Linked DNA regions of Homo sapiens: region 1 is linked to region 2. The links come from fine-mapping of genetic effects on gene expression. A gene starts in region 2. The other region holds a variant in brackets. All regions are shown on one strand. Distances are between the middles of the regions.

Region 1 (5,367 bases), 48 kb before region 2:
ACTTTGCAGGGATACTATGAGCAAATAACCCTGACTCTGTTTTCTGTGGTAGTGGTAGTGGGGAGTGCTCCAAGAACTCCTTGAGCCTCATTAGTCCCTCGTTCTTATCTGAGAAGGTTCCTATTGCTTGGTGTATTAGTCCGTTTTCATGCTGCTATAAAGATACTACCTGAATTGGGTAATTTATAAAGAAAGGAGGTTTGGGCCAGGCATGGTGGCTCATGCCTGTAACCCAGCACTTTGGGAGGCTGAGGTGGGTGGATCACCTGCAGTCAGGATTTTGAGACCAGCCTGGCCAACATGGTGAAACCCCGTCTCTACTAAAAATACAAAAATTAGCCGGGCATGGTGGCACGTGCCTGTAGTCCCAGCTATTTGGGAGGCTGAGACAGGAGAATCGCTTGAACCCGGGAGGCGGAGGTTGCAGTGAGCCAAGATCGTGCCACTGCACTCTACTCTGGGTGACAGAGTGAGACTCCATCTCAAAAAAAAAAAAAAAAGGAGGTTTGGCCTGACGCGGTGGCTCATGCCTGTAATCTCAGCACTTTGGGAAGTCAAGGCAGGTGGATCACCTGAGGTCAGGAGTTCGAGACCAGCCTGGGCAAAATGGTGAAACCTCGCCTCTACTAAAAATACAAAAATTAGCCGGGCATGGTGGTGTGCACCCAGCTACTTGGGTGGCTGAGGCAGGAGAATCACTTGAACCTGGGAAACAGAGCTTGCAGTGAGCTGAGATCATGCCACTGCACTCCAGCCTGGGCAACGGAGCAAGACTCAATACTCAAAAAGAAAAAATAAAAAAAAAGAAAGGAGGTTTAATTGACTCACAGTTCTACATGGCTGGGGAGGCCTCAGGAGCTTATAATCATGACAGAAGGCAAAGGGGAAGCGAGGCACATCTTAGATGGCAGTAGGAGAGAGAGCGAGAAAGTGCCACACTTTAAAACCATCAGCTCTTGGGAGAACTCACTCACTATCATGAGAACAGCATGGGGGAAACCACCCCCATGATCCAATCACCTCCCACCAGGTCCCTCCCTCAACATGTGGGGATTACAATTCAAGATGAGATTTGGGTGGGGACACAGAGCCAAATCATATCACTTGGGTAGTGGAGATGAGGGAAAGGAGTGGTATTCCAAAGCACGAGGTATTGAGTACGTTGTTTCATGAGTCTTTTTTTTTTTTATTTATTTTTTATTTTTTTATTGATCATTCTTGGGTGTTTCTCGCAGAGGGGGATTTGGCAGGGTCACAGGACAACAGTGGAGGGAAGGTCAGCAGATAAACAAGTGAACAAAGGTCTCTGGTCTTCCTAGGCAGAGGACCCTGCGGCCTTCCGCAGTGTTTGTGTCCCTGGGTACTTGAGATTAGGGAGTGGTGATGACTCTTAACGAGCATGCTGCCTTCAAGCGTCTGTTTAACAAAGCACATCTTGCACCGCCCTTAATCCATTAACCCTGAGTGGACACAGCACATGTTTCAGAGAGCACAGGGTTGGGGGTAAGGTCACCGATCAACAGGATCCCAAGGCAGAAGAATTTTTCTTAGTACAGAACAAAATGAAAAGTCTCCCATGTCTACCTCTTTCTACACAGACACGGCAACCATCCGATTTCTCAATCTTTCCCCCACCTTTCCCCCCTTTCTATTCCACAGAACTGCCATTGTCATCATGGCCCGTTCTCAATGAGCTGTTGGGTACACCTCCCAGACGGGGTGGTGGCCGGGCAGAGGGGCTCCTCACTTCCCAGTAGGGGCGGCCGGGCAGAGGCGCCCCTCACCTCCCGGACGGGGTGGCTGGCCGGGCGGGGGGCTGACCCCCCTACCTCCCTCCCGGACGGGGCAGCTGGCTGGGCAGAGGGGCTCCTCACTTCCCAGTAGGGGCGGCCGGGCAGAGGCGCCCCTCACCTCCCGGACGGGGCGGCTGGCCGGGCTGGGGGCTGACCCCCCCACCTCCCTCCCGGACGGGGCGGCTGGCCAGGCGGGGGGCTGTCATGAGTCTTGTATTATCCATTTTATTATTCCTTAGTGCATGGTAAAGCTTCCTTTAAAATGCAAGCTGATTTATTTGAGCCAGAGGACCCCAGGGGAGGTGAGATAGATACCCACACCTGGGCAGAGGATTACAGGGAAAACGGCACCCGCTCTTTCCCCTGGGCACAT[A/G]TGGTAGAGGCTGTGGGAATGAGGGTATTGCAGGGGTGATGAGGGTAGAGTCAGGACTGTAACTCCTCATTCCAGGTTCCCCGGAGCTTTGACTGTTGTGCTCCTAGCCTCAAGCAATCCTTCTGCCTCTGCCTCCTAAGGTGCTAGGATTACAGGCCTGAGCCACTGACTGTCCTCCTCCTAGGAGGCTGTTGACTGAGAAGGTCTGGATGTCAAAGCCTTTCACCACAGGATATAGCCAAGATTACTGCAGAGCCAAGGCCCAAGGCCATCCTTCCCTATGCACAGCTCTTCGTAATTCCCCTGACTTCTGTGTGTGCAACTTGTAAGCAGCTCAGCCTGGAGTAGAAGTTGGGGTTCTGACTTTCTACAGCACCTGGGACGGGAAGGATCAGAGGAGCACAGGGAGCTGACTGCCTTATAGGTGTCTCACGTCATCCCATCTGACCCTCCAACAAGCATGTCAGGCTGGCATTATTCACCCCATTCTACAAAGCTCAGAGCAGTGAAGGGCCTTGCATGTGACATTTACCATCATCATCACTAGTATGTCCCTACTCACATCACAGCAATTCTTTGCTCAAATCTGTAATTGCTGAGACTCGAAGTAAAACCCAAAGTCTTCACAATAGCAATAGCCTGCAAAGCTCTGCCCCCCTCCTCTCTTCTCTGACCTCCTCACTGCCCCTGTCTTACTCACTCTGCTCCAGCCACAGTGGCCTCCTTGCTAGCAGTTCCCTCCCCAACACGCCCGGCACAGTCCCACATTCCCGCCTTGCTCTGGCTTCCGCTGTGGCTGTTTCCTCCCCGCAGAACACTCCTGCCTTCCTCACCGCCAAGTCTGGACTCAAACCTCACCTCCTCAAGAGGCTTGCCCAGACAGCCTTTTATATTCTGCAAACTGCCTCCCACTGCCACCTGCCCCCTTACTTTTTGTGGCCTTGACCTTTCAACATACTACATGATTTGCTTACAATACTTGTCTGTCTTGCCTTCACCAGAATGTAAGCGCTCTACAAAGGCAGAGGGAAGGCTATCTTGCTCTCTGATGTATCCTCCAGCCCTTAGAACAGTCCGTGGTACTTAGCAGGTTTTCAGTACATCTGTGCCCGGCGATGGAAAGAATGAATGAATAGTGAGACCGAAGATCGCGGCCGTAAGCCTCTGGGCACGGGTGCCCCGGGGCCTGGCGGAACGCTCAGGGAACTACATTTCCCGTGAAGCTCTGGGCGCAGAGGGCCGCGGGGGCTGCCGGGAAAGGCATACGTGCTTAATCCTGGTGCAGGGGGCGAGCATGGCCGCTCCGCGAGGTGAGCCATTGGCTGGGGTGTCGGCGAGTGTGTTCGTGGAGCGCGTCCTGGGGACGACTCCCGGCATTATCGGCCAGGTTGAGTCCGCTCCTGGCATTCCGCGGAAAGATGGGTGGGTGCCGGGCAGAGGTGTGGCCACCTGCGATGGGGATTGACCTCCGAGGGGAGGGGGCCCTTCTAGACGTCGTGCCGTGGGATAGGTACCTTCTGCTCCCTCCCCGCCACCCTGCCTCAGATCAGCACAAGGTCCTTACTGCTGCCCATCTGACAGTTGGGAACATCGAGGCCTGCAGCGGAGGGGGGTCTCATCCAACAGCCTACAAAACCCTTATTTGACTCTGTCCCCAGTGAGCACCCCCAGCTCTTGCCTGGTTTCCCGGGACACTAGGGTGGGGCCTGAGGAGTGGAGTGGCAGCTGACCCTGTCTGTGCCCCTAGTATTCCCACTTTCCTGTGCGGTGCAGCAGTATGCCTGGGGGAAGATGGGTTCCAACAGCGAAGTGGCGCGGCTGTTGGCCAGCAGTGATCCACTGGCCCAGATCGCAGAGGACAAGCCTTATGCAGAGGTGAGCCCCGGGCTGTATTTCAGCCCACTTTACCCGCAGGTCAGGAGAAAGGGCCTGAGGCAAGTCATAAGAATCAGCTGGGAAGGGTGAGGCAGCAAGGAGGGAGGAGACCCACTTGGCTCTTCAGGCTAATGGACTAGATAGTGTTATCAAAAAGAAGAGAGGTTTTGTCATAATAGGCTGGGATTTCCAGCACTCTCCTTCCCCCAACCACTCTTAGCACTTAGTGAATTTTAATTCAGCCCTCTTTGACAATTAAGTTTTTTTACTTTGACTATTTTTTTGCATTTTTATTAACCTAAAATATTTCTCCTGCCTATTTAGTGGAGAAAAAGCCAAAGCATAGGAAGGCTTTCGCCTCTGCTTCTGAAACTGGAAGATGTATGTTAACCCCTGAAAGAATCATTTAAGAGTCATAGTTTTTCTGCTACCTTGACAGTGCAGATGTCATTCTCCTCTTTGGACAGACAAAGAAGATACATCTAAAGAAGGGAAATAACTAGTCCAAGTCTTCATAGATGGCTAGAGGCCGAGTCTGGACAAGGGCCTGGGTCTACTGCCTCCCTGTATGTCCATGATGGCATGAACATTTGTATCCAGACCTGGGAGGCCTTTCCCAGGACTCAGTTGCCCTGTGGGGAGCACAGCATAACGGATTGGGACAGGCCAACTCAGGGTGGCAGGTTTCTTCCCCCTTCCCCTCCCAAGTTTCCTGTCTTTCCAGTTGTGGATGGGGACTCACCCCCGAGGGGATGCCAAGATCCTTGACAACCGCATCTCACAGAAGACCCTAAGCCAGTGGATTGCTGAGAACCAGGACAGCTTGGGCTCAAAGGTCAAGGACACCTTTAATGGCAACCTGCCCTTCCTCTTCAAAGTGCTCTCAGTTGAAACACCCCTGTCCATCCAGGCACACCCTAACAAGGTAAAGGACAGAGTGCGGTGCAGAGGTCAGGGTACAGAAGGGCTTATGCTAAGGCCCTCCCGTGACTTTTACTGCCACTTTTACCCCACCCATGCCAGGCTCCTGCCCAAGGCCAAATCCAGGCTGACAACTCCCAATTTAGCTCTGCAAAGCCAGATGGTAGTGACACATGCAGCAACTAAGTCTAAGCAAACAGCTCACCGGCCTGTGCCAGGGGAGTTTCTCTAAGCTCATTCCAAGGGGCTTGTTCCTGGTCTTCCCTCATCCAACCCATGTCTATTCATATCTGCCATTTACTCATCTGCTTTCAGGAAGAGTTCAACTTGCAAGGCAGGGCAGGTACCCTCAGCCCCACCCCCATGGAGTCTCCCTACACAAGCCGGAGTCCCATCCTAAGCAAC
Region 2 (5,367 bases):
AAGCTATTTCTAACACTGCTTTTTGGCATTCAGTTAAGCACTCCATTTAAAAACAAAAAAGGCTAACATATATAGAAAAATAAAAGGGCTCATTGATCCTTTGGGTTTAAATTTAGTTAAATCGGATAGTTTTCCATTTAATAAATAATCAACCCTGACAGGCCCAAAGAATGAACACTTTGGTGGTGGTAACTGTAGGAATGAGGGCACATTAACGAGTTACTGAGGCTGGGTGCAGTGGCTCTCGCTTGTAATCCCAGCACTTTGGGAGGCTGAGGTGGAAGGATGGCTTGAGCCCAGGAGGTTAAGGCTGCAGTGAGCTGTGCCAACTGCACTGCAGCCTGCATGACAGAGCGAGACCCTGTCTCAAAAACAAAAACAAAAACAAAACAAAACCACAACAACAGAAGAAGAAAAAGAAAAATTTGGCTGGGCATGGTGGCTCACACCTGTAATCCCAGCACTTTGGAAGGTGGGAGGAGGGAGGCACTCCTGAGCCCAGGAGTCCCCAGACCAGCCTGTTTCTACGGAAAATAAAACTGGTGGCGCACCCTTGTGGTCCCAGCTACTTGGAAGGTGGAGGCAGGAGGATCAGTTGAGTCCCAGGAGGTCAAGGCTGCAGTGAGCTGTGATGGTGCCACTGCACTCCAGCCTAGGCAACACAGTGAGACTATCACCAAAAAAAAAAAATAAATAAATAAATAAATAAAAAATTTTTTTTTTGAGATGGCATGATTTCGGCTCACTGCAAACCTCTGCCTCCCGGGTTCAAGCAATTCTAATGCCTCAGCCTCCCAAGAAGCTGGGACCACGTGTGCGTGCCACCACACCCGGCTAATTTTTGTATTTTTAGTAGATACTGGGTTTCGCCATGTTCAGGCTGGTCTGGAACTTCTGATCTCAGGTAATCTACCCGCCACAACCTCCCAAAGTGCTGGGATTACAGGCGTGAGCCACCGTGTCCGGCTGAAAAATGTAAATTGTACTGTTACTTTAGCAAAACACAAAATCTAAACAAACATCAGGATGGCCCAAACATAACTATAAGAAACAAAAATGGTTCCACCATTAAAAAGGAGTCAGTTTCGGCCAGGTGTGGTGTCTCACGCCTGTAATCCCAGCACTTTGGGAGGCTGAGGCAGACGGATCACCTGACCTCACGAGCTCGAAACCAGCATGGCCAACATGGTGAAACCCCATCTCTACTAAAAACACAAAAAGTAGCCGGGCATGGTGGCAGGTGCCTGTAACCCCAGCTACTCCGGAGGCTGAGGCAGGAGAATCGCTTGAGCCAAGACCGTGCTATTGCACTCCAGCCTGGGCAACAAGAACGAAACTCTGTCTCAAGAAAAAACAAAACAAAACAAAACAAAACAAAAACAAACAAACAAACAAAAAAAAACAAGGAGTCAGTTTCCCAAGATGGACTTTGGTTTCCTTTTCTATAAAATAAAATGGCTTCCACGATCTCTAAAGTACACTCTAGGTTGGCTGCAGTGGCTCATGCCTATAATCCCAAACTTTGGGAGGCTGAGGTGGGAGGATCACCTGAGCCCAGGAGTTCAAGCCCAGCCTGGGCAACATAGGGACACTCCGTCTCTAATTTAAAAATAAATAAATAAACAAAAATAAAGTACCCTCCAGCCTTATGGTTCTACGACAAATGATAAAAGTCTAAAATGAATGAAGCAAAACATATTCTTTTTTTTTTTTTTTTTTTTTTGAGACGGAGTCTCGCTCTGTCGGCCAGGCTGGAGTGCAATGGCGCGATTTCGGCTCACTGCAACCTCCGCCTCTCAGGTTCAAGCGATTCTTGTGCTTCAGCCTCCCGAGTAGCTGGGATTACAGGCGCCCACCACCACACCCAGCTAAATTTTTTGTATTTTTAGTACAGACAGGGTTTCACCATGTTGGCCAGGCTGGTCTTGAACTCCTGACCTCAGGTGATCCGCCCGCCTCGGCCTACCAAAGTGCTGGGATTACAGGCATGAGCCACCGCGCCCGGCTGAGTTCTTTTTTTAATTTTTAACTTCAGCATACCCTGAAACGAGTTTCTGAGTTCTTATGTTTAAATACGCATGCATAGTTGCCAGTGATGCAGGTTCAAAAATAAAATATAATATGCATGCATAGAAGCTAAATTTCACGGACCAAGATCGAAGTGCAATTACTGTAATTATTCTATGGTGGTGGACTCAAAACCTCCCAGCACACATATAAAGGGAAGGAAAATAGACAAAAATCAGAAGCACGTCTCATACTCCAGCAATCAGGCTTCTATTACAAAGGGGAAAAAACACGAAGCGTTCCTATGCTTGTAAAACCCAGTATTCCTGTGTCTGTGACATTCAGTTTTCAAAAGAGTGATATTTTTATCATAAGCCCTATCAAAACTCTGGCTATCTTCCGGAGATCAGGAAACAACCACACACTTCCATCTATTTTAAACGTGGAAGAATTAGAACGTGGCACAGCAGACCCTAAAAATGATGGAAAAGGCTGTGAAGGTGACACACTAATCGCTAACCGAGAAATGCCTGATTGAAAAGTATAATCGTGTGTCCCATACGGAAGTATATTGTGTCCTCGGACCCCAAGCGGCGTGCCCGGAGGCTCAATGTCACCTTCGCCGAGGCGCTGCAGGCCGGCGGCGGCCACTCTCGGTCAGGTGGCCGCAGGGTCGGCGCTGGGGCAGGGTCATGGCCCGGGAACCGAAGGGGAGCGCTGCGTCCCCTCCTCGGCGCCCACAGCAGGTCCACATCTGACCTGTCCGCGGTGGCACAGCCAGGAAGTTGCGCGGGGGGAGGCCCCGGGGGCGCGCTTTCAGGTCCTCCACTACTCGAGGCGGCGGGCAGGGCGGCCCGCGGTCACCGGGTTCAGTAACCAGGGTAGGGCAAGGGCTAGGCCGGGGAGAGCCCGCCCCGGAGTGGCAGCGGGGACCCAGGTCACCGCAAGGACACGAGGGCGCGGGCAGTGGCAAGCAGGGGCCTTACCCACGGCGGGGCCGGGGGTCCGGGCGGAGTGCAGGAGGCCTCGAGGGTCGGCCCGGGTGGTTGCGGCCACAGCGCAGCGGCGGAGAGCGGCGCCCAGCATGACGGCGATGGCGGCGCGCGGGCTGAGGACAGAGAGAAGCCGGTGTAAGCTCGCGGGTTGCTCCGGAGCGGGCGGGGGCCGGACAGGCTCACAGCGGGCGGAGCACGTAGGCCCGCCCACTGCGACTCTGGCGCGTGGGCGGGAGGAGCCACCGCGCGGCCGGCGGCGGCGGGGGCTACGGCGGCGCGCTGAGGACAAACTGTTAGCCTCGCGTCCCGCCTTGTCTCTGGTCAGGTGACGTGCAGCTGCCATCCTGTAAGTAGGAATGGAGGCGAGGGAGGAGCAACCGACCGTGATCTTGTTCGAGTCAGGCCCAGGAGGGCACTTAATCACCTCAAAATAGGAATGACAGCAATAACAACAAACTATAATAAAAAATACGTACTTTGCGCCCGGGCGCTGTGGCTCATGCCTGTAATCCCAGCACTTTTGGGAGGCCGAGGCGGGCGGATCACCTGCGGTCGGGAGTTCAAGACCAGCCTGGGCAACATGGAGGAACCCCCGTCTCTACTAAAAATACAAAATTAGCCAGGCGTGGTGGCGCAACGCATGCCCGCAATCCCAGCTACTCGGGAGGCTGAGGCAGGAGAATCGCTTGAACCCAGGAGGAGGAGGTTGCGGTGAGCCGAGATGGTGCCATTGCACTCCAGCCTGGGCAACAAGAGCGAAACTCCGTCTCAAAAAAACCAAACAAAACAAAAACCTACTTTGCTTAGCCCCGCCTTCTCATTGTGGCATAAAATAAAACAGCGAATGGGGGAAAGAATGCCGCTGGACGCGGTTGCTCACGCCTGTAATCCTAGCACTTTGGGAGCCCAAGGCGGGCGGATCACCTGAGGTCGGGAGTTCGAGACCAGCCTGACCAACATGGAGAAACCCCTGTCTCTACTAAAAATGCAAAATTAGCCAGGTGTGGTGGCGCATGCCTGTAATCCCAGCTATTTGGGAGGCTGAGGCAGGAGAATTGCTGGAACCCAGGAGGCAGAGGTTGCAGTGAGTTGAGATCGCACCATTGCACTCCAGCCTGGGCAACAAGATCAAAACTCCATCTCAAAAAAAAAAAAGGCCTATGCGTAAGGGATTTTATTAGTACATATTCTTATATCACAAACCAGCTTGCATAAAAAATGAGTTAAACTACTTCATTTCACAGATTAGGAAAGAGGCTCAGAAATTAGGTTGCTGCTGGCAGTCAAGGATCTTTTCGCCACATCCCCAGTTCTGAGGACTCTCACCTGAATGTTTCCCATCTCCTACAGGAGGGCTCCTGAATCCACGATGGCTCTGAAATAGGGTTGATCAAGTTCCACAGTTGTTGCATCTTATCTCACTAGCTACATCCTAACTTTGAGCCCCTGGGCAGTCAAGGACACCTCTCCCAGGCCTGAAGTATCTGGATGCTGCCCAGAGTTAATGAGACATTGTATTCTGTCTTGCTGTCTCCCATTCTCTATCCCTGGGCACACTGAGGAAAGAAAAGGTGGCCATTCATGTGCCACTTCCTCACTTCAGGCCGACTCTCCAGGGCCTCAGCATCTGCCCTTCTCTTTTTCCTCCCTAGCAGTGTGGCTTCAGTGGGTAGGAACCTGGCGGGGAAAAGGATTTTTAAAATGTTTTCAAAGCACCTGCCCTCACCGTTTCCCACCAACCTAGTGCTGGGGCTTAGAAAACAATACCACAAAGTGAAGGCCTATGAAGCAGTTTCTCTCTGACCTTCTGCCCTCTTGTCTCTTGCCCCTTACTCTCCCTCCAGGCATGCCACAGAAACTAGAATCCCTCCTCCCCAAGAGGGGGTCTAGAAAGTAGAACCCCTTTGTCCCAAAGCCAGCCATAAAGCCTAAAAATATTGCTCTAACCTTTCTCTTTGCCTTTCTATGTAACAGCTGGCCATAAAGAAATTAAGGCCGAGCACGGTGGTTCACGCCTGTAATCCTAGCACTTTGAGCCGCCAAGGCCAGGAGATCACTTGAGGTCAGGAGTTTGAGACCAGCCTGGCCAACATGGTGAAACCCCATCTCTATTAAAATTACTAACATTAGCCAGAAATCACTTGAACCCAGGAGGTGGAGGTTGCGGTGAGGCGAGATCACACCACTGCACTCCAGCCTGGGTGACAGAGCTAGACTCCGTCTCAAAAATAAAATTTTTTAAAAAAAAGGAGAAAAGGAAACATGGCCAGGTATGGTGGCTCATGCCTGTAATCCCAGCACTTTGGGAGGCTGAGGTGGGAAGATCACCTGAGGTCGGGAGTTCGAGACCATCCTGGCCAACATG

The links. PIP is the estimated chance that this variant, and not a neighbour inherited with it, causes the effect.
Region 1: its variant is the best candidate, but not a certain one, in a credible set for the expression of COX5A in whole blood (INTERVAL, PIP 0.62).

The regions. Positions count from the first base shown.
Region 1 is chr15:74,886,614-74,891,980 of GRCh38, forward strand. MPI (mannose phosphate isomerase) reads left to right here and starts at 3,429. Exons shown (of 8, transcript NM_002435.3): 1 at 3,429-3,476; 2 at 3,914-4,041; 3 at 4,766-4,966. The coding sequence starts at 3,461. RefSeq lists enhancers at 3,046-3,095, 3,256-3,555, 3,345-3,878, 3,676-3,755. The variant A/G (reference allele first, on the strand shown) is at 2,167.
Region 2 is chr15:74,934,922-74,940,288 of GRCh38, forward strand. COX5A (cytochrome c oxidase subunit 5A) reads right to left here and starts at 3,152. Exons shown (of 5, transcript NM_004255.4): 1 at 2,994-3,152. The coding sequence starts at 3,093. RefSeq lists a silencer at 2,846-3,405.